7 separate regions of the Homo sapiens genome follow, and all the other regions are reported to be linked to region 2. Evidence: microRNA targets listed by miRTarBase, many of them from high-throughput screens and not tested one by one. Region 2 holds a microRNA gene; each other region holds the end of a gene's coding sequence.
Evidence for each region. Region 2 holds the annotated microRNA hsa-miR-6499-3p (AGCAGUGUUUGUUUUGCCCACA, at 1,890-1,911, shown strand). A microRNA usually pairs through its seed, bases 2 to 8, with sites in the 3' UTR of a target mRNA and lowers its output. Matches are read on the target gene's strand: a 7mer-m8 pairs with bases 2 to 8, a 7mer-A1 pairs with bases 2 to 7 and ends in A, and an 8mer does both.

Region 1 (3,000 bases), not on the chromosome of region 2:
TGGCCTCCCAAAATGCTGAGATTACAGGTGTGAGCCACGGCACCCCACCAGGAACTTAAATTTTTAACTGCCACTTGCAGCTAGTGTGTACCAAATCGGAGAGCCCAGCCTTATATATTCAAATCCTCTATTGGTCACTCTTTATATGCATTCCAGCTTGTCAATATCCATCAAACATCTGACTCCTACAAAGCAATACTAAACAGTACAACTTTCAGAATGACCATTTAACACCTAGACAGTATTTCTATTCCTGCTTTCCAGAATGTAATTTTTTTTAAGCATCCATAGGGTGGGTCACATTGATAATCACTGTAACTAATACTTTGTCAGCAATCCTAGTGCCTAAATGTGTATAACTGCATTTTTTAACCTAAATGTAAGACTTGATACTTCAACTTTTTGGTTTAGGCCCAGCAGTTTGGGTATTCCACGTGGTTAATCATTTTAAAGCTTGTTTCAATATAGTCTTCCAACCAGACTTTCCAATTTGTGTCACTTACAGATTTGGCACTACCACCATCTGGTCTGTATGTAATCCTTTACAGTTTGCAAGGCACTTTTACATCCATTATATTTAATTTGATTCTTACAACCAACTTGTGAGATAGGCAAGATGTGAAGTCGATATTTTATAGACAAAGCAGCTGAAGCATAATAGGAGCTTAACTGGTGGGATCCATTTATCCATTTTCTCTTCCATGGAGCATCTTGTTGTATTCATCCAAATCCTTGACAGAAATGTTGAAGAGGACCTCTAGAGGCTAAGCTTATCCTGAATTCTTAAATAGCACTGACTGTTACAGTTTAAGCAAGTCAGTTTCACCTAAAAGTGTGATTATCCAACCCACATGTTGCCTTTCTGTTCAAAAAGGATGGTACCAAAGACAGTCACAGTCACCTGGCTTACTGACATAAATATTAATACTAATCAAATGAGTAAAAAGCCCATGAGGATTGGCTGCCACAAAAAATTTTCAACCTGTATCTACCAAGAAACTATCATACCAACTAAGGAAGCCAAGTCTCTCTCTCTTTCAAAACCCTCACGGGGCCATGCTTTATTATAATGGTCTGCCACAGGTCCTAACCCACACTGTATTTGATTATATACAGTCTCATAATTAAGTCATTCCTCTTTATCACACCCAGCACTTAGTCCACTGCTGCCCATGTAGGAGGCACTCAAATTGGTAAAAGAGAAATCTATGCAAGGGAATGATCTTCTGGACCCCCTCCAAAAACAAACTTGTGACTAGAAGAGGCACCAGCCATAGCCACATTCCTACTAACAGGGCTGATTTAAATGCCCTTTTTATTGGCTTGGTCATAGTCTCCAACAGGTGCCAAGGCTTTTGCTAGTTAAACCAGTTTTCATTGGATCATTTTGTTTTCTATGTGTGTTTTGACCAAAAACAAAGATAGGTTCTCTAACAACAGGGAGAGAATATATGAAATAGGAATATGTCTATAAAACGACAGTCTACCAGTAAGGAAAATAAGTGATCCATAAAACAAAACATCTGACTGTAGGTCTACCCAAAGAAAGGAAAAAGGACTAACAAACAAGAATATAGTGCTTTACCATTTACAAATCTTTCACATACATTCTCATTTGACCCTCACAACAACCCTGTGAGGTAGGCATCACGGACATTCTACTCATTAAACAGATGAAGACAGTAAATCTCAGAGTAGTTCACTGATAATGCCCAAGGCTCTACAGTTAGTGAGTGATTTGTATTAATATCAGTCTTTGGCCTAAAAATTCAGCACCCCTCTTCCCCTTATACTTGTCCCACCTACTTCACAGGGATAATGAAGATAAAATGAATTCAAGGCTAGAAAAATACTTTGAGGGAGAAAAGCACTATATAATTATACCTACAAACTATGATTTTCCCCAATATATGGCTCATTCCTCTTCTCATCTCAGCTTGTGTGTGAACCCAGAGTTGTATATTGCCTCTGTCCTGTGCTCAGTAAGCAAATAAGGCAGGCAGGGGGTACAGTGTGATCCTGTTTAAAGTTACATAAATTACAATCAGGGTAACTGCTATTATTAGGCAAATTGAAAAACAGCACAGAAAGGCCAGTGTGCAACTAGGACCCACTAAAGCTCAGAGGAAAGCAATGCAAGATTATCAGACAGGCATGATTGCATAGAAGGAAAATGTGGTGTCAGAGTTCAAACTGGCACACACACACACAGTTATCTAAGGCAAAGTGGTGGCAAAGAAGTTATTTGTTCCATGTCACACAAACAAGAGCAGAAGATTCATGGGAACCCGTACAAAAGCATCTTGTGTCACACAGATCTCTCCAGCTGCCTATAGGGAATATACAGAACAGTGTCACCTTCAAAGAATGACTGTACCTGTGTTCATATCCTGAACTGCACCAAGGAATAGCTCCATGCTAAACTGTCTTGGCTAAAATACAACCAGTGCCATCATTCCTAATCAGACTAATAAACAGAATGTCTTTTAAGGTAATGAGTTAGATGGCTGTGTTTAGGTTTTGTTCAGGATTTACTTTGGATTCTCCTGCTTTAAGACCCAAAGAAAGTTATATTGAGTTTTTATTGATGATTCTATGTGTTTTTAACAGAGTGTGATAGGTGAATTAAACATATTAAAAGAGTTCTATAGCATCTGTTCAGAAAAGATTATATACTATACAAACTATTCAAGTCATACAAAACCATTTTTCATTGTCTTTCAAACTGAGAAGAATCCTATTCAGCACGCTTCTCCTCCTGAGGTGGTTCATACTGAGCAAGCTATGGGGCAAAGACAGAGGAATTTAGGTGAATTTTATTCTAAATTGAGTAAAAAATAGTAAAACAAGGTAACTGTTATATTCAACTTAGTTACTGTCAGTAAATTGTATTAATATCAGTTTCTATAACTATCCATTTTAAATCATTCAGTGATTTAAGATTTAATACAATCAAATCTAATGAAAGCCCTTTTTATATAAACCTTTAAAATTGCTTTG
Region 2 (3,141 bases):
TATGTAAATTGATAGGAGTTGGTGGAGTGGATGTGCAGTTAGAAAGAACAGAGACGATTCAGGGGTGATTTCTAAATTGTTGGCTCCCATGAAGACTTCGGTGGTAGTGCATTTATGAGACTGGAAAGGCCCAGACGGGAAGGCAGGACAGGTTTATGGGCTAAACCGAAGCTCTGTTTTGCACATTATTTCCCAGTTGTTTGTGAGACATCCAAGCAGAGGTGTCCAGTGGGTAGCTGGGAATTGGAGTTGGCAGCTCAGAGGATTGGTAGATGGCCCTCAAAGCCAAGAGCATGGATGTGATTGCCTAGGGAGAGATGAGAGAGAATGGCTTCCTGACCTCTGTATTCTCAGACCCAGGCACACGTCCTGCCTAGACAGGAGCTTAGTAATGACTGGCATCATCACCATCAATTGCATTGGTCCCGTACTTCCACTTCCATGCACTGGGAGGCACCATAGGCCAGCAAAGAAAAACACAGGCTATAGACACAGATAGGTATTCAGATTCTGCTCAGGCCTTATCTGCTGCTGTATGACCTTGGGCAAGTTACTTCACCTCTTTGAGCCTCAGTTATATTTTTTGTAGGATGGGTGACTTGATAGTACCTATCTCATAAGAAGGATAAACTAGGATAATGTATTTACAGCATTATCATAGTTTATCTATGATAATGACTAGCATTGTACTCAGTTAATGTTAGCTATGTATTATATATAATCGGTAGTAGTAGTATTGTTGTAACTAATGTTAGCTATACATTATAATTAACAGTAGTGTTAATTATTATTGTTGCTATTAATATCTCTTCGGTGTTATGCATGACTTCCAGCAGTAGGTGTAATCTTATCAACTTTCTTGTACATTAAAAGTGTTGGAGTGCAGGTGAACAAGATATTACTACAGGGAAAATTGTGGAGACCCTCGTTGACAGCTGAGGAAGTGATAACATCACTGAGGAGAAGAAGGCAAGCCTGTCCTTTCTAAGTCAGGCAGGAAGTTGCAGGGATGTGTGGTGAAACATGAAAGGAAAATGCGTTTATGATTTACATTCTTTTCCCTACTTAAGTGAGGTCCTGTCACCCTCACGGCTTTTCACAGTTCTGACATTAACTGCAACCCTGCGCGTGCCAGCCCATCAGTGAGGTCAGGCCTGCTTCCCTGCCCACTTGCTCCAGCACCAGTGACCCCGTCTGTGCTGTTGAACACACCGCCTTCATTCCTACCCCAGGACCTTACACTTGCTGCTCCCTCTGTCTGTCGCCTCTTCTTCTCATCCCTCAGGACTCAAATGTCACTCCACAGAGACTCCTTCTCTTCTACCTGATCAAAGTTAGGTCTCTGTTTATTTCCTTCCCAGCATTTTATCCAAGTTATTTGGTAACTTATTTATTGTCTCTTTTCTCCTGGCCACAGCAGAAGACTTCGTTGACTGACTAGAAGGACAAATCCCGACTCCCACTCCAATCGCATAGCAAAAGGGAATCCCAAGGGGAATTTTCGTAGGCTGAGCAGGGTGCATGGTGCATCAGAATTGCTGAGACATCTGAGGGCGCCCTTGAGGACAGGGACAGAATGAGAAACTTCATGAGGAAGTTAGCCCAAGTCTATGGCTGGAGAGATTTAGGAAGAGGCTCAGAGAGATGTCACATGAGGAAACTGCATTGTTTTACTGCATGGTATAGGATGTAACTCCCTCCTTCAATCTCTACAAAACCTTCAGAAAATCTTTCTTTTCTGTCAGTGCTTTTGGAGTTAGGTTTTTTTTTTCTAAATGCAACAATGCGCTGAGCCAGCCCTCAAGTTGGGCGTGGGGCAGAGAAACGTAGCTCCACAAGGAGGCCCAGCCTCAGTCGGGCGCAAGAGCACTGCAGTTCTGTTGGGTGACAGCAGTGTTTGTTTTGCCCACAGGCGTCAGACAGTGGCATCCCTCCCCTCTCGTCTTTGACGTCTGTCCGTGTCCATGTCACAGAGCAGAGCCACTATGCACCTTCTGCTCTCCCACTGGAGATCTTCATCACTGTTGGAGAGGATGAGTTCCAGGGTGGCATGGTGGGTAAGATCCATGCCACAGACCGAGACCCCCAGGACACGCTGACCTATAGCCTGGCAGAAGAGGAGACCCTGGGCAGGCACTTCTCAGTGGGTGCGCCTGATGGCAAGATTATCGCCGCCCAGGGCCTGCCTCGTGGCCACTACTCGTTCAACGTCACGGTCAGCGATGGGACCTTCACCACGACTGCTGGGGTCCATGTGTACGTGTGGCATGTGGGGCAGGAGGCTCTGCAGCAGGCCATGTGGATGGGCTTCTACCAGCTCACCCCCGAGGAGCTGGTGAGTGACCACTGGCGGAACCTGCAGAGGTTCCTCAGCCATAAGCTGGACATCAAACGGGCTAACATTCACTTGGCCAGCCTCCAGCCTGCAGAGGCCGTGGCTGGTGTGGATGTGCTCCTGGTCTTTGAGGGGCATTCTGGAACCTTCTACGAGTTTCAGGAGCTAGCATCCATCATCACTCACTCAGCCAAGGAGATGGAGCATTCAGTGGGGGTTCAGATGCGGTCAGCTATGCCCATGGTGCCCTGCCAGGGGCCAACCTGCCAGGGTCAAATCTGCCATAACACAGTGCATCTGGACCCCAAGGTTGGGCCCACGTACAGCACCGCCAGGCTCAGCATCCTAACCCCGCGGCACCACCTGCAGAGGAGCTGCTCCTGCAATGGTAAGTACTACATCTTCCCTAGGGACGAGCAGCACTGCTGGGCTCAGCCCGCCTGACTCTAAGCATGGAGATTCCACTGAGGCTCTGTGGGAGAGTTCAGGGAAGTTTTAATAAGCCCAAAGGCCACCAATCACCATAAGACGGCTAGTGGCCTCACAAAATCTAGTTATGGAATAATACCCAATTCTCAGCTCCCTTTCGAGATTTAGAAAATAACAGTAAGACTACAATATGTGGTTTAACATCATGGCTAAGAGCATAGGCTGTGGCTTCAGTCTTCATGGGTTAAAATCCCAGCTCTACCCCTTACTAACCAGGCGACTTTAGGAAAATTAACCTCTCTGTGCCTTTGAGCTGGGCTGCTGTAGGAATTACATCAGTACTATGTATCAAGTGCTTGCTTAGAACAGTGCCTGAC
Region 3 (3,000 bases), not on the chromosome of region 2:
GAGAAAGAGAAGGAAGGGTAGGAGAGGAAAGAGAGGACAAAACAATAGAAAACCTGAACAAATGACCCTGACCCTCTTCTTCCAATTGCAGCTATTTAATTCATGTGAATCCCCACATTATCCCTAAGTAAATATTTTGTTTCACAGAAAGCTTGTCCTTTTGTTTTTCTGTGTACACGTGCGCACTGGCGCTTGTGCGTGTATGTGTGTGTGCGTGCATGTGTCATTTGCTACCAGGTGAATGTTTCAGTTCTGGTTTCTGTTTAGTCTTCCTTTTTTTTCTTTTTTCTTTACTTAAAATTATTTTTCCTTTTAGAAAGTTCACCAGGAAACCAGCTCCCCTCCCACCACGCCGGGCAGGCCACAGCCATCTTTTTAAAATCCGCGCTGATTTTCCCTCACACCCCCAAACAGGAACTCCTCAGGATGGCCTCAGAAGGCTGGAGTCTCTCCCTGTCTGGCGGGACACCCTGGTGGCGGTGAAGGCCCCTCTGCCACAACGGAGGTTTCTGATTGTGGGACACAGTCTGGTTTTTGTTTTCTTCCTGTCTTCTAATTAAAAAAGACATTCCTGACAAAAGAGATAAGACAGTCAATAACTGCACCAGAAAATAGAGCATTTAGTAAAATCAACCTTAAGGCAGAGGTTTCTATATTTCCTCAGGTACCTCATTCTGAAGTCTGCCAATAAGAACTCAGAAAAAATAAACAAATAAATAAAAGTCTGGCGTTTTAACTTGTGGGTTCAAGGGAGCTACTGCTTTAATGAGACACCGTCTGCAGTGTGCTTCCAATGCTGAGTGTGCTGTGGAAACAAGGGATGATGTGTCAGGAGGGCAAAGAGCCAGCAGGTCCAGGCCTCCCATTCCAAAGCAACCAGGGAAGCTTTGCCTCAGTCTGCTAAATCCCACAGGCTTCATGTCGATTTTATTTTGAAAGAAGGCTTTGCCTACTAATAACAGTTGAAAACAAAACAAAACAAAACACCAATTTAGATGCTATCGAAAGGATACTGTATTAAGCGGAGTGGTTCAAAGTGAGGACTCTGGTACCAGAATATCTACATGTGAATTCTGGCTCCACGAATAACTGTCAGGCAAATTGTTAAACATTGTTGAACCTCAATTTCCTCATTTGTAAAATGGGAAAAATAGTAACAAATCCAGAAAAGCAGATGAGGATTATCTTAGTTAATACATCTAAAACACTTAAAACAGTGCCCTGACACACAGTAAGGGCACAATAAAAGTTAACCATGAACACCTACAGCTGTCCATGAGCAACCTTATGAGGTGTATCAATGTCAGCTAACCCAGACACCATGCAAAACCAGGACATCCCAAATGATATTATTACTCATTAAAACAATCAAAGTTGAGAAATGATTTTGGGTGTGGCAAGGCACTGCTGAACATCACTTTTACCTATGAATGCATTTAACACAGAAACTACCAGTGAGTGCTACAGATTCATCAAGAATTGCCTCCTGGGAGAAGAAACTCACCTTGAGACATCAAAGGGTGGGCTTAGAGGAGAGCTACCTTTCTTCTCTCCATCAAGAAACTGGCACCCAAATTCTACTACCCACTCCTTTCAGCTAAGCTTCTTGCTTTGCTTCAGAACCAGGAGACGGAAAGCACGTGGAGAAAAGTGCTCATCGGGAGCCAAAGATGCTCCTCCTCTCCTGTAAGGGCCAAGCATCCCTAACAGCTGAAACTTTTTGAACGCTGATATGACCCTCAAGCGAATGAGCATTGGAGCATTTTGGATTTTGGATTTTTGGATTAGGAATGCTCAACTGGTGTGCATTCTGCAAATATTCCAAAATCCCAAAAAATCCAAAATTGAAAAACACTTCTGAAAGTGTTTTTTCCTCCGAAATCCCAAGCATTTCGGATAAGGGATATTCAATTCATACCTCCTGCCCTGGTCAAAACCTGGCACTTCAGCATTCAGGTCATAAAAGTGATAAGAATAAGCTCTTTGCTCATTACATCTGGAGGGTCAGTTTTAGGAGACTGGCACCACATATAACAGTCAACTTGAGGTTGTTTTCGCCAAAGTGGCCAGGTTAAAAATACTTATTTGTTTGTTGCCATGTACACTTACCATCTTAGAAGTGTCTGTAAGGGGAAGGGGGAAGAAAATGTTTCAATGCACTGTGTAACAGTTACTTTCTTATGGAGGTGAAAATGGTACCCCAAAGACACTGACAATTACTGGCTGCCCAGGCCCAAGAAAATCCGGGCCCTGTATATTCCAGCTGTTCACCACAGTTAAACTGCTGAGTCCTTCCCTGACTCTAGCTATAAGACTGGTCCCATGATAGGCATTAAAACCTATCCCCATTCCCAGGCATCCCCAACAGTCCGACAGTCCGGACAAAAGCTGGGAACTATGTATCCTCACCTGGGTGACAGGCACAGTGCAGGAGTGTGAGCTATCGAAACAACCTGGTGAAGTCTCGCAAGGCCCAGCAAACTTGTTTACATTCCTCAGCACTAGAAAAGAAAAGGTAGGTTGGTCCTTGACTGAGGAGAAAGACAGAATATGCTGAAAAACAACTGCAACATTGGGGCACACTGAGAACCGTCCCAACTCTGCTAGGAGCTCTCTCCATCGTCTCCTGAGCGATCCTGGCTTCAGATCTTTCTGTAATTCAGGGCAAAAATTATTATATATGAGAAAAGTTATAAGCTTGGTGGTCTTCAAAGGGTGTACTCTGGACACAAACTGCCCGAGTTTGAATCTTGGCTCCACTGTGCCCTTGAACAAGTTACCAATCTTTGTCTCAGTTTCCTCATCTATTAATATTATCTACTTCATAACACTGTTTAGAGGATTAAAATCGTCCACATACAGAGTGCTTATGAAAATAGAGCAGTGAACAAAATAGTATTCAATAAATGTAGGCTGCTACAACAACACTTGGTTGCTACGGCTCTCATAAGTTTCCTCATTCTCTTCCAAAGATAGATTTTGTTTACAAAGGCCGGTCTA
Region 4 (3,141 bases), not on the chromosome of region 2:
GACCCTAAGCAGCTCTCTTAACTTTATAAAGCCTCAGTCTCCTCTTCGGTAAGTGGAGAGGCTAACGCCCGCCCCCACGAGCATTAACTGAGGGAAGGGGACCTGCACACCCTGGATGAAGGTGCTCCCTGCTAGCTCCCGTCTCATGCAGTAGCCAGCATTGCTGGCACATCCCGTACTCACAACAGCATATCATTTTCATTAAACAAACTGCTATGATGGGCACATTTGCCATTGTCTGTGGGGCATCCTGGGGAAATGATCCCAGCTTGGTCCTAGGCTGGCCAGGCAAAGAGGAAGTGTAGCCAGATGGACAAGGGACTGGGAGGTGATGCATAAGAGTCCTTGCCTGCCACGCATGCCCCATTTCCCCACCCCCTCAGTCACACCCAACTCTTCCAACTGCCTTGAGCCATCGAACTCCCTCTGCCTTCTGAAGCTCTGAAGACACTGTATCACTTCTCTCCAAACCCCATGGCCATGACCCACACTCAAGTCCTCTTCCACAGCTCCTCCTGGCCTCCCTGCAGCTGCTCTAGCCCCCTCAAATGCATCCTTCTGCAACGGACTGGATTGAAGCTGCGAATAAGCTTATCTGATTTTCCAGCTTGATTTCCAGCTCACTCATGAGACAGAGTCCAAATCCTCCGATCTACCATTTTGTGGTCTGGACCCAGCCCATCTCCTAGCCACCTCCTGATCACAGCTTCAAATCTTACAGCAAACAATCCAAGCCACCTCTGCCCATGCATCTCCCCTGCCTGGAAATCCATTTCCCTGCAAGGAGGGCGTGTGTTGCCCTAGAGTGCCCAGGATCCATTTCCTGTTCCCCCAGTAATGGAGTGCCCGCCCCAGCTCTCAGAGCTGGAGGATACTGGAGGGCTAACCCATTTCTGGGTTTAGGGGGAGCTTAAGACTCAGGCAGGCAGGTTCCTTTCGCTTTTTTAATGGAACGCTGTGGCTGCAACGAGCATTTTCCAGTTGGCCACAGCGCACCCCCACTTTGTCTTATTCCAGTTCCACCCATTTATTTTATCCGAATAGGTCCTGGAGGCACCGAGTTTGCAGCTCCTGGTACCCTCTCCTCACTTCTGCTCTGTCAGGCCCCAATGCCTGCCCAGATCCCAGATCCCAGTTCCCAGATCACCCCGGGGCTCAACTTTCCTCCCTTGATGCCCAGTGGAACCCCTGGTCCCATGGGGCTTCAGTTTCCCCAGTTCAGGCATAAGAAGCTGGGGTTCATCTGAGCGTGTCCATGTTCCCCCTGGAGGAAGGACGGGAGCAGGCAGGGTGGAGCTGGGATTAGAGGGGACAGGGCAGCTGCAGGTGGCACCTCTGGGCTGTGTCCTCTTGTAGCAGGACGAGCCACAGACAAAACTCCTCAGGCACCGGATTAAAGAAGGAAGAGGTTTATTTGGCCAGGAGCATTGGCAGACTTGCATCTTAATAGCTGAGATCCCTGAAAAAGAAATTCTTGGCCTTTTTAAAGGCTTACAACTCTAAGGGGTCCACGTGAAAGGGTCATGATATCTCAAGCAAGCGGGGAACGTGACTGGGGGCTACACGCATCAGCTAACAGAGCAGAAAGTTTTGCAATGCTTTTTCATACAATGTCTGGAATTTACAGATAACACAAGTAGTTTAGGTCAGGGGTTGATATTATTATTATTGTTACTTTTTTTTAACTACCAGGGCCGGGTGGTGTCGCCAAGGTCTTCTGGCTATTTATCTTACTTCTGTTTTGTTTTGTTTTCTAACTTTTTGCTTTCTCTCTTTCCTCCTGTCTTGTAAACTAGGCAAGGTGGGGGGAGGAGGGCAGCAGGAGTAGTAGTGGTCTCCTTCTTACTGTGGGACTGGCCCCTTTGGTTTAGGGTATCACCAAAGGCAGTGTCTAGGCCAGCCCAGTGTCTCTGCCCAGCAAACCTCCATCTGCTGTGCACTCACAGCCAGGCCATGCTGGTGTTTGGTACAGGTTGGGTGCATGAAGGATGAAGGTTTTGGCCTGTCTGGGGCTTTTGCCTGCCTTTCTTCCTTTCTTTCCATCCTTCCTTTCCCTCCCTCCCTCCCTCCCTCTCTCTTTCTCTCTTTCTTTCCTTTGTTTCTTCTTTGGAGACAGAGTCTCGCTCTATCACCCAGGCTGGAGTGCAGTGGCACCATCAGCTCACTGCAACCTCCACTTCCTGGGTTCAAGCGATTCTCCTGCCTCAGCCTCCTAAGTAGCTGGGATTACAGGCGCGTGCCACCACACCCAGCTAATTCTTCTATTTTTGGTAGAGATGGGGTTTCACCATGTTGGCCAGGCTGGTCTCAAACTCCTGAACTCAAGTGATCTTCCCGCCTCAGCCTCCCAAAGTGCTGGGATTACAGGTGTGAGCCATCGTGCCCGGCTGTCCCAGGTAACTTCTGACATTTGCTGACCCCTCACTATGTGCTCATTATCACCGCAGAACCCCATGTGGTTGATCCTTTATTAGACCCATTTTACAGATTAGGAAACTGAGATGAGCAGAGGTGAAGTCAGCCCTGACAGGTCACAGGAGCAGCAGGTGGCAGAGCCAGAGTTGGGCTCAAGCTAGTGCCAAATGTGCCCCATTGGCCACTGACCCTAAAGATGTGTGACCCAGAGGGTCCTGAGGAGCCACGTTAACCCATGGCCGGTGTCATCCTCTTCCGGTTTAGGACTAGTGGATTTTGGGCACTGGAGCCACCTCTTTGGCAAACAGCTTGAGGGAGAAATCAAGGGCTGGGGCCGCCTGGGTCAGCATCCCCATGGAGATGACGTCTATGTGCGGCCCGCAGAACTGGGGGAGGTTGTCCAGGGTGATGCCCCCACTGGCTTCCACAGCCACACTCGGGAACTGGGCCTTCAGCACGGTGGCCGTGGGGTGCAGCTCCTGCGGGACACAAGCCAAGGGGAGGTAAGAGCCCACCACAGATCCCTCCCCGGAGGCAGAGCCCACCTTACCTCTGGCTTGAAGTTGTCCAGCAGGACAAGGTCGGCACCAGCCTCAGCTGCCTGCACGGCCTCCTGCAGGCTGCTGCATTCCACTTCCACCTTCAGAGTGAAGTCAGCCGCCTGTCTGGCCGCCCGCACCGCCTGCTGGGCAGCCGGGAGGACAAGGGTGAGGACTGGGCCCAGCA
Region 5 (3,141 bases), not on the chromosome of region 2:
AAAACAACAACAACAACAACAACAAAAAAAAAAAAAAAAAAAAAAAGAGAGAGAAAAGCTGGAGTTATCAGTTCACCACTAACAGAATGTTGAGACAAAGCAGATGAAGGGTCGTATCTTACGACTGGGGACAGGAAAGAAGACCATGAAGGTGCTCTCAAGATACAGTGGTCATTTTTGGTCTGGGGACTGGTTCCAGGATCCCCTGTGCATACCATAATCTGCACTTACTCAAGTCCTGCAGTTAACCCTGAGGAACCTGCCTCTACAAAAAGTTGGTCCTCCATATACTCAGATTTTGCATCCCACAAATACTGTATTTTAGATCCACATATAAGTGGACCTGCACAGTTCAAACTTGTGTTGCTCAAGGGTCAACTGTATATGTAGGAAGGAGCAGTACCATTGTGGAAATGATGGGAAGATAAAAGAAAATACAATTGTCACAGAGAGGACAAAGAACATGAGAAAGGAGAACAAACTCAGATTTGACCAAAAGACAATGGCTTGTATTACACTGGTAGAAGCAGCAGCCTCAGAAATTACAGGGTATTTAGGGAAAGTGGCTATTAAAGAAGCAGGTATAAGGGACTCCAAGTCTGGGAATGAAAGAGGGCAAGATTGTAGTAATAAGTGAAGGATCAGTGAAGATTTTAAAAAAAAGGAACTGAGCCATAAATTTTCTTCTTTTTTCAATTTAAAAAAAAGCTTTAAAAAAAGTTACTTATACATAAATACAAAACATATAATACACACACATATTGTTACACACTTTGTTGTTACCATTCTTAAGTACAAATTTTAGTTATTCTTAGTATCTATAGATATATGTCCTAAAGCATGATTCAGTAGCAGCTTTTCCTATCCTTTAAACGTTTTCATACTCTAAGGAGCAAGATTCTCAAAGGTATCTTTATCAATCTCCTTTGGAAAAAAAAAACCCACACACACACACACACACACACACACACACACACACACACAAAAACACATATACACATAAATAACCTCTTTAAAGGCATCACCTTAAATAGATAAAACTCCTTAGTGACTGCTGGAACTTTCCAAGCCATACATTATTTGTTTAGTAAGTCACTATCATGATGAAAAGAAATTCAGTGTTATGAAGTCTATTAAACAGCCTTAAGCTTTCATTTATTCCCTTTGATGAAGCTGATTTGAGAGAAGGACCATTTATATGTTATGAAAATAACAGACACTCCTTTGGATTTCACAGATTATAATTAAGAGAACGCTATTAACTACAGAATACTGATTGCAAAGTATTTCATTTTTAAAGATACTCCTTGAGCCAGAGAAGGGTTGAAATGTTTTCTTGAAGGAAGAGTAGAACCATGATAAAGACTATAATCCCAAGAAGGAAACAAAGTACTTCAAAGTTAGAAAACATGATGTAAGAAAACATTGGAAAGTGGGATCATTCATCTGGGACATATCATTAGAGAAAGATAAAATTGAGAGGTGTTCTTTGCCTTAATTGTGCACGAGTAATAAACTAATCGTGTCTGTACATTTCCCAACAGAATTTGGGCCACCAAATATTTTCACGTACATTATCCCATTGATTCTCACAACAACACTGTCAAATAGTAAAGGGATTCTTCTTTTCTTCTCCATGAAGAAACTAGACTGAGAAAGGTTACGTAACTAGCTCAAGATCATAAAGCAAAGCTGAGTTTGAGACCCAGGTGGGTTCCCAAAACTAGGACTGGAGCTCTTTCAACCAAATAATGCTCAATAGGAAAAGGAGTCAAGGACAAGCTCCAACTGGTAAAACAATCTGGATGAGTTAAGAGTTCAAAAGTTGAGAAACAATGTTGTTAAAGGAAACTAAACAGGTTTCTTGGATAAAATGCTAAGTTATAAGAAGCTCTGGCTAAAGAGCAAGAAGATGGATCAGCTGACTTCTCAGACCACTACTATTGTTACTTTTCTAGAATATTTTTATTTACTCTCCTCTTAAAGTCTCCTTTATTTCCTCCTCCTGATATGATTTTTTTTTTAATGACAACTCCAAAAGAAAGGATGAATAAAAAAAAAATTTGGCAACTCTTGGAACCTAAATATAAACCCTGTTGGCATGTTTACACTTCTTTTTGGATATCAGCTGTATAATCCTTTAGCCAGATTCAGTCTCATTCCTAACACAGTTAAGTGTGCTTTGTAAGGGTTTTCTTTGTTAACTTGCCTCACACATATAAAAAAGAAAAACAAATACACAGTCACATTTCCCAACACCTTTCCCCCACCAAAAACACAGTATAGGGTAGCCAGGTACTTTGAAAAAGTATCATTTTAAAACATAACTATTATTGTAAAAATAAAAAATAAACATGACAAATCAGTCACAAGGCAGGGAGGCAGGAAGTCATACTACAACAAAAAGTCTATGGATGAAGTATCTGCTTAATACTCACACACAGAAAACACTCTCAGAAAATGTTTCTTTAATTTAGTTTAACTAAAATTTCATCAAGGTAGAATGCAGTTTTGTAAAAAGTTCCAAGGATCCTATTACACAGTTGCTAATTAACCTTCAGTTCCTTATTTATACATTTTTTACTTACAGATATAAAAGGAAAAAAAATCCTAGAAATTATTTTAAACAGAACATTATACAATTAATTAAAAGTAGGAATTAGAGTGGAACAATGTGGCTTTAGATACTGATAATTAATAGACAGGATGAATCACAAAATATATTAAGTATTATCATTTTCCAGTCTCTGCATCTCATCTTGTCCCATCTGTCCAAGGTGAGACAAAAGTTTGCTATAGGCTTCCCTGTTTAAGAAAAAAGAAAAGAAAGCAAATATATTAACATTTTCATTATTTTTCATTTCAGTATTTACAAATTAAGTCTGCCCATCATCCATCCATCCATCTATTCAGCCATCCATCCAGCAGGCTTAGCACAACACTTCTTAAAAAGTAATGCTTTATATCTATTGTGAGTAAACCTAGATGTTAAGATGTATTAAAGTATGATTTTTATATATAAAATGTGTGCTAAAAATGACATGTAAAAGTTCATTAACCTTCCGAAATATTATAATGCTCACGGGTAATAAAATGCATTCATGGAATATTATTTAAGGACAATGATGGTATGATTACAAT
Region 6 (3,000 bases), not on the chromosome of region 2:
TGGTCTCGACCTCCTGATTTCAGGTGATCCACTGGCCTCGCCCTCCCAAAATGCTGGGATTACATGTGTGAGCCACCTCGCCTGGCCTCTCTTCTATCTTTCTTCTCCTTCCTCCGTTCGCTCATCTCCCCTCTGCTCCCCTCTTCTCTCCTCCCCAACCCAGAGCAGTCTCTGCCCCAGGACCAGCTTTTCTTTGAAGAGAGCCCTAGGGGAGATCAGCCCTCAGGTCTGATGGGATCCTGGGGAGGGGGCTGTGGGCACCCCACTGTGCCCCAGAGTTCTGGGTGAGTTTGGGGGGCAGGGGGCAGAGGGCATCAGAGGACAGCCGCCTGGTGCCCATGCCATACTTTTGCCTCAGCCACCAGGTGCAGGTGAAGGAGGAGCCAGCAGAGGCAGAGGAAGACAGGCAGCCCGGGCCTCCCCTGGGCGCCCCTAACCCCAGCGCCTCGGGGCCTCCGGAAGACAGGGACCTGGAGGAGGAGCTGCCGGGAGAAGAACTGTCCTAAGGGCCTGTAGTGACCGGCAGGGCTGGGGTGAGACCCCTCCCTTCCAGAATCCAGGCCCCATCTCCCCCAACTCCACAGCCCCTCCCGAGCCTCAAGGCAAGTCCAGGACTCAGACCGGGGAGGCCCGGGCCAGCAGCTCCCAGTGTGACCTGACAAAAACACGTAGGGGCAGGGACGGTCCCCACCCCCAGGGACACAACCCCTGGTCTTGGACCAGTAGAGGACACGGAGGGTTCAGACCCCTCCTCAGACCCTCCCCACATCTGAAACTGCCTCCCCCCAACCACCAGCAGCAGCAGGGCCCTCCTCCCCCACCAGCTCTCCCCACAGGGCCCCTCAGCATCATGGAGACCCGCAGGCGGGGCTTAGCCACCCCTCAAACCCAGGGCCCCCTGGCACCTGGCTCTGGCCGTGTTTTCTGGCCAGAGGCCCCCACTTTCCTAACTCGTGCTCCCTTCCGCCTTCTTTTCCGTACTGTGAAGAAAGAACTCTCCACCCCAGCTCCCACCCTGCCCTGGCCTGGGTGGAGGAACTGTGCCTCCATCCCCAGAAGAAACAGCCCCCTCTGCTGCTGGGGTGGGACTGTCTGTGTGCCCTGTGGGGGTCCGTGTGAGCAGGCCCACCTGGCTCCAGACCCGCCCCCAACCTGAGACAGAACCAGGCTGAGCCAGGCCTCCACCCCCACCCCCGTTTGCTGGGGGCTCCTCCAGCCGCCCCCATGGGAAGAGGCCTGGTACCGCCTCACCCACAGAGGTCTGTGCCAGGTGCGCTTCTGCAGGTGGAGCCAAGCTCTCCCTGAGGCCAGAGGCGGGGCCTGGGCCGGGAGCCCAGGGGAAGGCCAGGCTGGACCCCGGCTCCACACCCACATCCAGCCTGCAGGCCTCTCTGCAGTCCTCTCACCCTCCCTCAGCTCCCCTTCCTCTGCAGTCACCCTCAGCTCCCCTTCCTTGCCCGCCTCTCCCCCCGCCGCCCCACCAGTTAAACGGATGACCAAAGACCTTTCTTATGCCGGAAGCAAAAACCAAAACTTTTTGTTGGCTTTTTCCTTTGTCGCCTCCCCAGCACCTGCCCTCCCAGTCTCCCACCCCGGCCCCAGGCTGGAAGCCCTCCCTCCACTTAAGTTATTGTTTTAAACCAAAGTTTACAGTGTCTGTTGGTGGCCAAGACCTTCTCTCTCCACCCCTCCTCCATCCACCCTGAGGACCCTGGGGCTCAGTGGAGGCAGGGCCCTGCCCCCCTCCCTTCCGCTCCTGCCCAGCCTGGGGGAAGGAGAAAGGAGGGGAGAAAGCGGGCTCTCACCCCCTCAGGAGTGGGCACGGGAGCCCTTCTCCCTGACCCTGGGCTGCTTCCTGGGGGCTCTCCAGACCCCTCTCTAGGACCAAGTCACCCGTCGTGCTGGGAGTGTGGATTCTAGCAAAAGAGCTGGAAAAAAGTCAGACTCTCCACAGACCCCCTATGGGGGACCCCCAACTCAAGGCCAAGGACTGGGCGTATCGGATGCTCATAACACCCCTGGCCTGGCCCCTTTACTGAGAAGACTCCTTGGATATTTCCCAAGAACCCCCCACATACACCCCTCACAAGCCACCCCTCCTGAGAGGCAGGGGGCCCTCCGCCCCCTCCCCATGTATTCCCCACCTGTGTTCCGTTTGACCAGCACAGAAATATTAAACGTCCTCTATTCACCGGGCCCTGTGTGTGTCACCGAGGTGCGGGAGGGGAGGAGCATTAAAGCTGAAAGATCGCTCTGCTCGGGGAGCCTGGGCAGAGCAGCAGCAACGTGAGGGTCGCTGTGGTGGTGGTTTCTGTGAGTGGATGGAATGAGCAGCCCTGCAGGGGCGCTGGGCATGTGCCCTCACTGTGGACAGGGCCCACCCACCTCCGGTTCCCCTGTGCCTCCTGTCCCTTCCACGCTTAAACAGGGTTCTCTGTCATTTTCCTGTTTTCTTCCAGAGTCCCAATCCTTTGCCCTAGTTCTTTCACTAGTTTGAAATCCAAGTTCTTGCCAGAGTGTTGGAGCAAGGCAGCTGATTTGCTGCAGGGATGGAGAGGACCACCGCCGCAGGGTTCTTTTACCTGTGCCACCAGCTCTGGAGACATCCACACCCATTCCCAGGTGTCCTTCCAGGCCCATTGTCCACGTCTTCAAGGGGGCTGCCTGGATAGGCGTGTGTGTGTGTAGTGCCCAGGTGTGGTGGTGGCATCCTGAAGCAGTAGGACCATTAGTGTGCGTGCACACCCACGTGGCACACTGTGTGGTGACCATGGTCATCATAGTGGGCTCACGGCGGAAACGGGATCATTCAACCTATACAAAGGGGACCCTGGATAGGCTGCAAGGAAAGAGGCCAAGGGCCAAGCTGCTAAGCCAAAGATGGCCCCTGACACCTCCCCCAGCCCCAGCACACCAGCCTGCACCTCTTATCCCGTGTTAAGTCCTGGTTCCCCACCTGCTGCCCCTCCTCAACACAGAGCCCCTCCCGCCGCCTCAGAC
Region 7 (3,133 bases), not on the chromosome of region 2:
CCCCCGTGTCCGCACAGCCTTCACCATGGAGCAGGTCCGCACCTTGGAGGGCGTCTTCCAGCACCACCAGTACCTGAGCCCTCTGGAGCGGAAGAGGCTGGCCAGGGAGATGCAGCTCTCAGAGGTCCAGGTGAGGTGGGCCGGGCAGGCTGGGGTGGGCAGGGGTGGGCAAGGGTGGGCTGGTGGCCTAGTCTCACCCCTGTTCTGATCTTGCTTTTCCTACAGATAAAAACCTGGTTTCAGAATCGCCGCATGAAACACAAACGGCAAATGCAGGACCCCCAGCTGCACAGCCCCTTCTCGGGGTCTCTCCATGCGCCCCCAGCTTTCTACTCAACGTCTTCTGGCCTTGCCAATGGCCTGCAGCTGCTGTGCCCTTGGGCACCCCTGTCCGGGCCCCAGGCTCTGATGCTGCCCCCTGGCTCCTTCTGGGGTCTCTGCCAAGTGGCACAAGAGGCCCTGGCATCTGCGGGAGCTTCCTGCTGCGGGCAGCCTCTGGCGTCCCACCCCCCTACCCCAGGCCGGCCTTCGCTGGGACCAGCCCTGTCCACGGGGCCCCGGGGCCTGTGTGCTATGCCACAGACGGGGGATGCATTTTGAGGAGGCACCTCTGACTCCCACACTCGCGGTCTTGCTGATCGCACCTGGCTCCTACCTGGAGGACTCAGTTGTTCTGTTTACATCCTGGTGGCACCTCTCACCCTGACCCACACAAAGGTTCTGGAGATTACTGGAGAATATATATAAATATATATATGTACGTATATATGTAAATACACATATACGTATATATAAATATATATATACATATGTGTGTGTATATATATATATATTTTTTTTTTTTTTTTTTTTTTTGAGACGGAGTGTTGCTCTGTCACCCAGGCTGGAGTGCAATGACGCAATCTCGGCTCACTGCAACCTCCGCCTCCTGGGTTCAAGCGATTCTCCAGCCTCAGCCTCCCGAGTAGCTGGGATTACAGACACCCGCCACCACGCCCGGCTAATTTTTTCTATTTTTAGTAGAAATGGGGTTTCACCATGTTAGCCAGGCTGGTCTCAAACTCCTGACCCTGTGATCCGCCCGCCTCGGCCTCCCAAAGTGCTGGGATTACAGGCATGAGCCACTGCACCCGGCCCTGAGAATATATTTATTAAAGCCACCTCTTCACTGAAAGTTACCGAAAGAGTCGGTTTAGGAAGGAAACGAAGGGTCAGTGAACAGAGTCAAATGCAGAAGTGGGCTTGTCATGGGTAGGGCTTTCGGCGTACGATAAAAGGATCATTTGTTTTTTAAAAGGGGTTGGAAAAACTGGTTTTCCAGTTGGAAACAGTAAAGGTTGTAAGCTTTGTGTGTACAAAAGAAAACAGGGAATGCAGGTGTGTTTATAGCGTTGTGGTTCAAGTCCCTCTTAACAAGAACTCCAAAGCTGGAAAGCAGGAGGGAACAAAGGTGAACATGAAGGCGAGGATGCTGGGGCCCTGCAGTGCGCTCTAGGCTGTGCGTGAGCCGGGACTGTACCCACAGCTTGCTGAGGGCTGCTCTTCTTGGGCCAGGGAAAGCAGGGCAGCCGGGACCTGCGGCTGTGCCTGGACTGAAGCTGTCCCGCAGGTCCCCACCCTCCAACACGTGCTCACCTGTCCCCCTGCTCGCAGCAGCCTCGGGACAAAACAATGACTCAAGGACAGCACTTCTTGCAGAAGGTCTGGAAGTGCCCAGAATGGGAGGCACGGAAGCCCCTCCCGGGGAGGACTCCCGCGTTGATGGACCGTTCTTGGTGCAGACTCCTGACTGCGTGCATGAAACCTGAGACAAGTGCAATTCCTTCCATGTCGCCCCAGAGTGCCCAGGAGGCAGGCAGTGCGGGGTGCCCAGGCAGACGGGTTCAGCCTGCAGAACTGGAGGCGACCTGTGAAACCCACCCGGGCACCCCAACAGGAACAGAAGCGTGGTCCTGCGGCTGCGTCCCCAGCGAGTTTCACTTTCCCCTTGCTCGTTTCTCCCTTGTTGTAAGTGTTTACAACTGGCATGTGCTTTTAAACGTCAGGTAAGAGGGGAACAGCTGCTGTACATCGTCCTGGCGAGTGACAATGTGACAGAAGCCTGGGCGAGGCCCTCGGAGGGCAGCAGCTGGACAGGGACTACTGGGTTTGGCCTGGACAGCACTGATTTGTGGATGTGGATGGGGGCACGTTGTCCGTGATAAAAGTACAAGTGCCCCTCACCGCCCGTGGAGATTGCTTTCTGGTCCCCTGTGTGGCCCCAGGCCACAAACCACACCGTCTTGGTCCTGAACTCTCCCGGTGAGTAAGGGCCCTGGCCTGGTGGTGTCTCGAGGTCCTGCCAGCACACTGGGCCCTACAAGGTGGGCAGCCCCTTGGGGCTGAGCTGTGCCTGTTCGGAGGCACACCTGGGCCTCCTTAGGGCCCTGGCTCCATCCTGCAGATGAGGAGCTCTGGAAAAGGGCAAAGTCCCGGAGGCTGAGGAGTGGGGCGGGCTCCAAGTGTCCAGCAGGGACCTAGACCCTGAGTTCTGGGGGATCCACAAGGCCCTCAGGCCCAGGGAAGGCTCTGCCACCCACGACTTCCAAACTTCTCTCCCTGTCCCCCATCCGGGGCTGCAGAGTGAGTTGGCCCAGGCCTCATGGGCTGCTGGTATCTGGGTGGACCTTGAAGACCAAGATGCCCCCAAGCCCTACTCCACCCACCTGCTGCGTCACAGCTGGCCGGGATGCAGTGACCACTCCGCTGGCCTCAGCCTGTTTCCGCTCTCCCCTGGGGGCCTTCCTCACATCCCCACAGCCTGTTTCCGCTCTCCCCTGGGGACCTTCCTCACATCCCCGCAGCCTGTTTCCCACTCTCTTCTGGGGTCCTCTGGCTGACAGCTGGACGTCAGTCCCAGAGTTTGGCAAGTCCTCTGCTCCTGGATGCCCCCAGCTGCCCCCACAAGCACAGTGCCCCAGGTGCTCTTGGCCCCACCCCACTCAACATCCCCATGTGGACATCTTACAAGCACTGGGGGTCCTGACCTGACTGGGGGCGCAGGGCGGCGGGGCAGAGACACCTACACATCCCGGGCAGAGGAAGGCGGTCAGAAGCTGCAGCTGTGAGGAGGTCTCAGCACAGCTGGGCACGA

Region 1: the mRNA of MYCBP is a reported target of hsa-miR-6499-3p. The part of its 3' UTR that is shown has no 7-base or 8-base seed match.
Region 3: miRTarBase lists TNPO3 as a target of hsa-miR-6499-3p. The part of its 3' UTR that is shown has no 7-base or 8-base seed match.
Region 4: the mRNA of QPRT is a reported target of hsa-miR-6499-3p. Seed matches in the 3' UTR shown: 7mer-A1 at 2,144-2,150 and 7mer-m8 at 1,885-1,891.
Region 5: miRTarBase lists MMS22L as a target of hsa-miR-6499-3p. The part of its 3' UTR that is shown has no 7-base or 8-base seed match.
Region 6: miRTarBase lists FOXP4 as a target of hsa-miR-6499-3p. The part of its 3' UTR that is shown has no 7-base or 8-base seed match.
Region 7: the mRNA of VENTX is a reported target of hsa-miR-6499-3p. Seed matches in the 3' UTR shown: 7mer-A1 at 911-917 and 7mer-A1 at 1,123-1,129.

What each region holds. Positions count from the first base shown.
Region 1 is chr1:38,861,933-38,864,932 of GRCh38, forward strand. It overlaps MYCBP (MYC binding protein), which reads right to left. Exons shown (of 5, transcript NM_012333.5): 5 at 561-2,782. The coding sequence ends at 2,738. The region is part of intron 1 of RRAGC-DT (RRAGC divergent transcript); the gene reads left to right. GJA9-MYCBP (GJA9-MYCBP readthrough) reads right to left here. Exons shown (of 3, transcript NR_037637.1): 3 at 558-2,782. Among named protein-coding and RNA genes, the nearest start is that of RRAGC-DT, 3.5 kb to the left of the region's middle.
Region 2 is chr5:151,520,858-151,523,998 of GRCh38, reverse strand. MIR6499 (microRNA 6499) reads left to right here and starts at 1,851; the gene lies at 1,851-1,912. It overlaps FAT2 (FAT atypical cadherin 2), which reads left to right. Exons shown (of 24, transcript NM_001447.3): 19 at 1,913-2,723. It also overlaps a transcript of SLC36A1 not described here. RefSeq lists an enhancer at 1,846-2,015.
Region 3 is chr7:128,954,815-128,957,814 of GRCh38, forward strand. It overlaps TNPO3 (transportin 3), which reads right to left. Exons shown (of 23, transcript NM_012470.4): 22 at 2,410-2,501; 23 at 1-571. The coding sequence ends at 2,441. Among named protein-coding and RNA genes, the nearest start is that of IRF5, 18 kb to the left of the region's middle.
Region 4 is chr16:29,696,952-29,700,092 of GRCh38, reverse strand. It overlaps QPRT (quinolinate phosphoribosyltransferase), which reads right to left. Exons shown (of 4, transcript NM_014298.6): 3 at 2,966-3,097; 4 at 1,394-2,894. The coding sequence ends at 2,682. Among named protein-coding and RNA genes, the nearest start is that of QPRT, 19 kb to the right of the region's middle. RefSeq lists a silencer at 466-640.
Region 5 is chr6:97,144,083-97,147,223 of GRCh38, forward strand. It overlaps MMS22L (MMS22 like, DNA repair protein), which reads right to left. Exons shown (of 25, transcript NM_001350599.2): 25 at 1-2,805. The coding sequence ends at 2,724. Among named protein-coding and RNA genes, the nearest start is that of MMS22L, 140 kb to the right of the region's middle.
Region 6 is chr6:41,598,431-41,601,430 of GRCh38, forward strand. FOXP4 (forkhead box P4) reads left to right here. Exons shown (of 17, transcript NM_001012426.2): 17 at 359-3,000. The coding sequence ends at 506. MIR4641 (microRNA 4641) reads left to right here and starts at 293; the gene lies at 293-358. RefSeq lists enhancers at 1-394, 395-978.
Region 7 is chr10:133,239,707-133,242,839 of GRCh38, forward strand. VENTX (VENT homeobox) reads left to right here. Exons shown (of 3, transcript NM_014468.4): 2 at 1-130; 3 at 226-2,222. The coding sequence ends at 600. Among named protein-coding and RNA genes, the nearest start is that of VENTX, 3.4 kb to the left of the region's middle.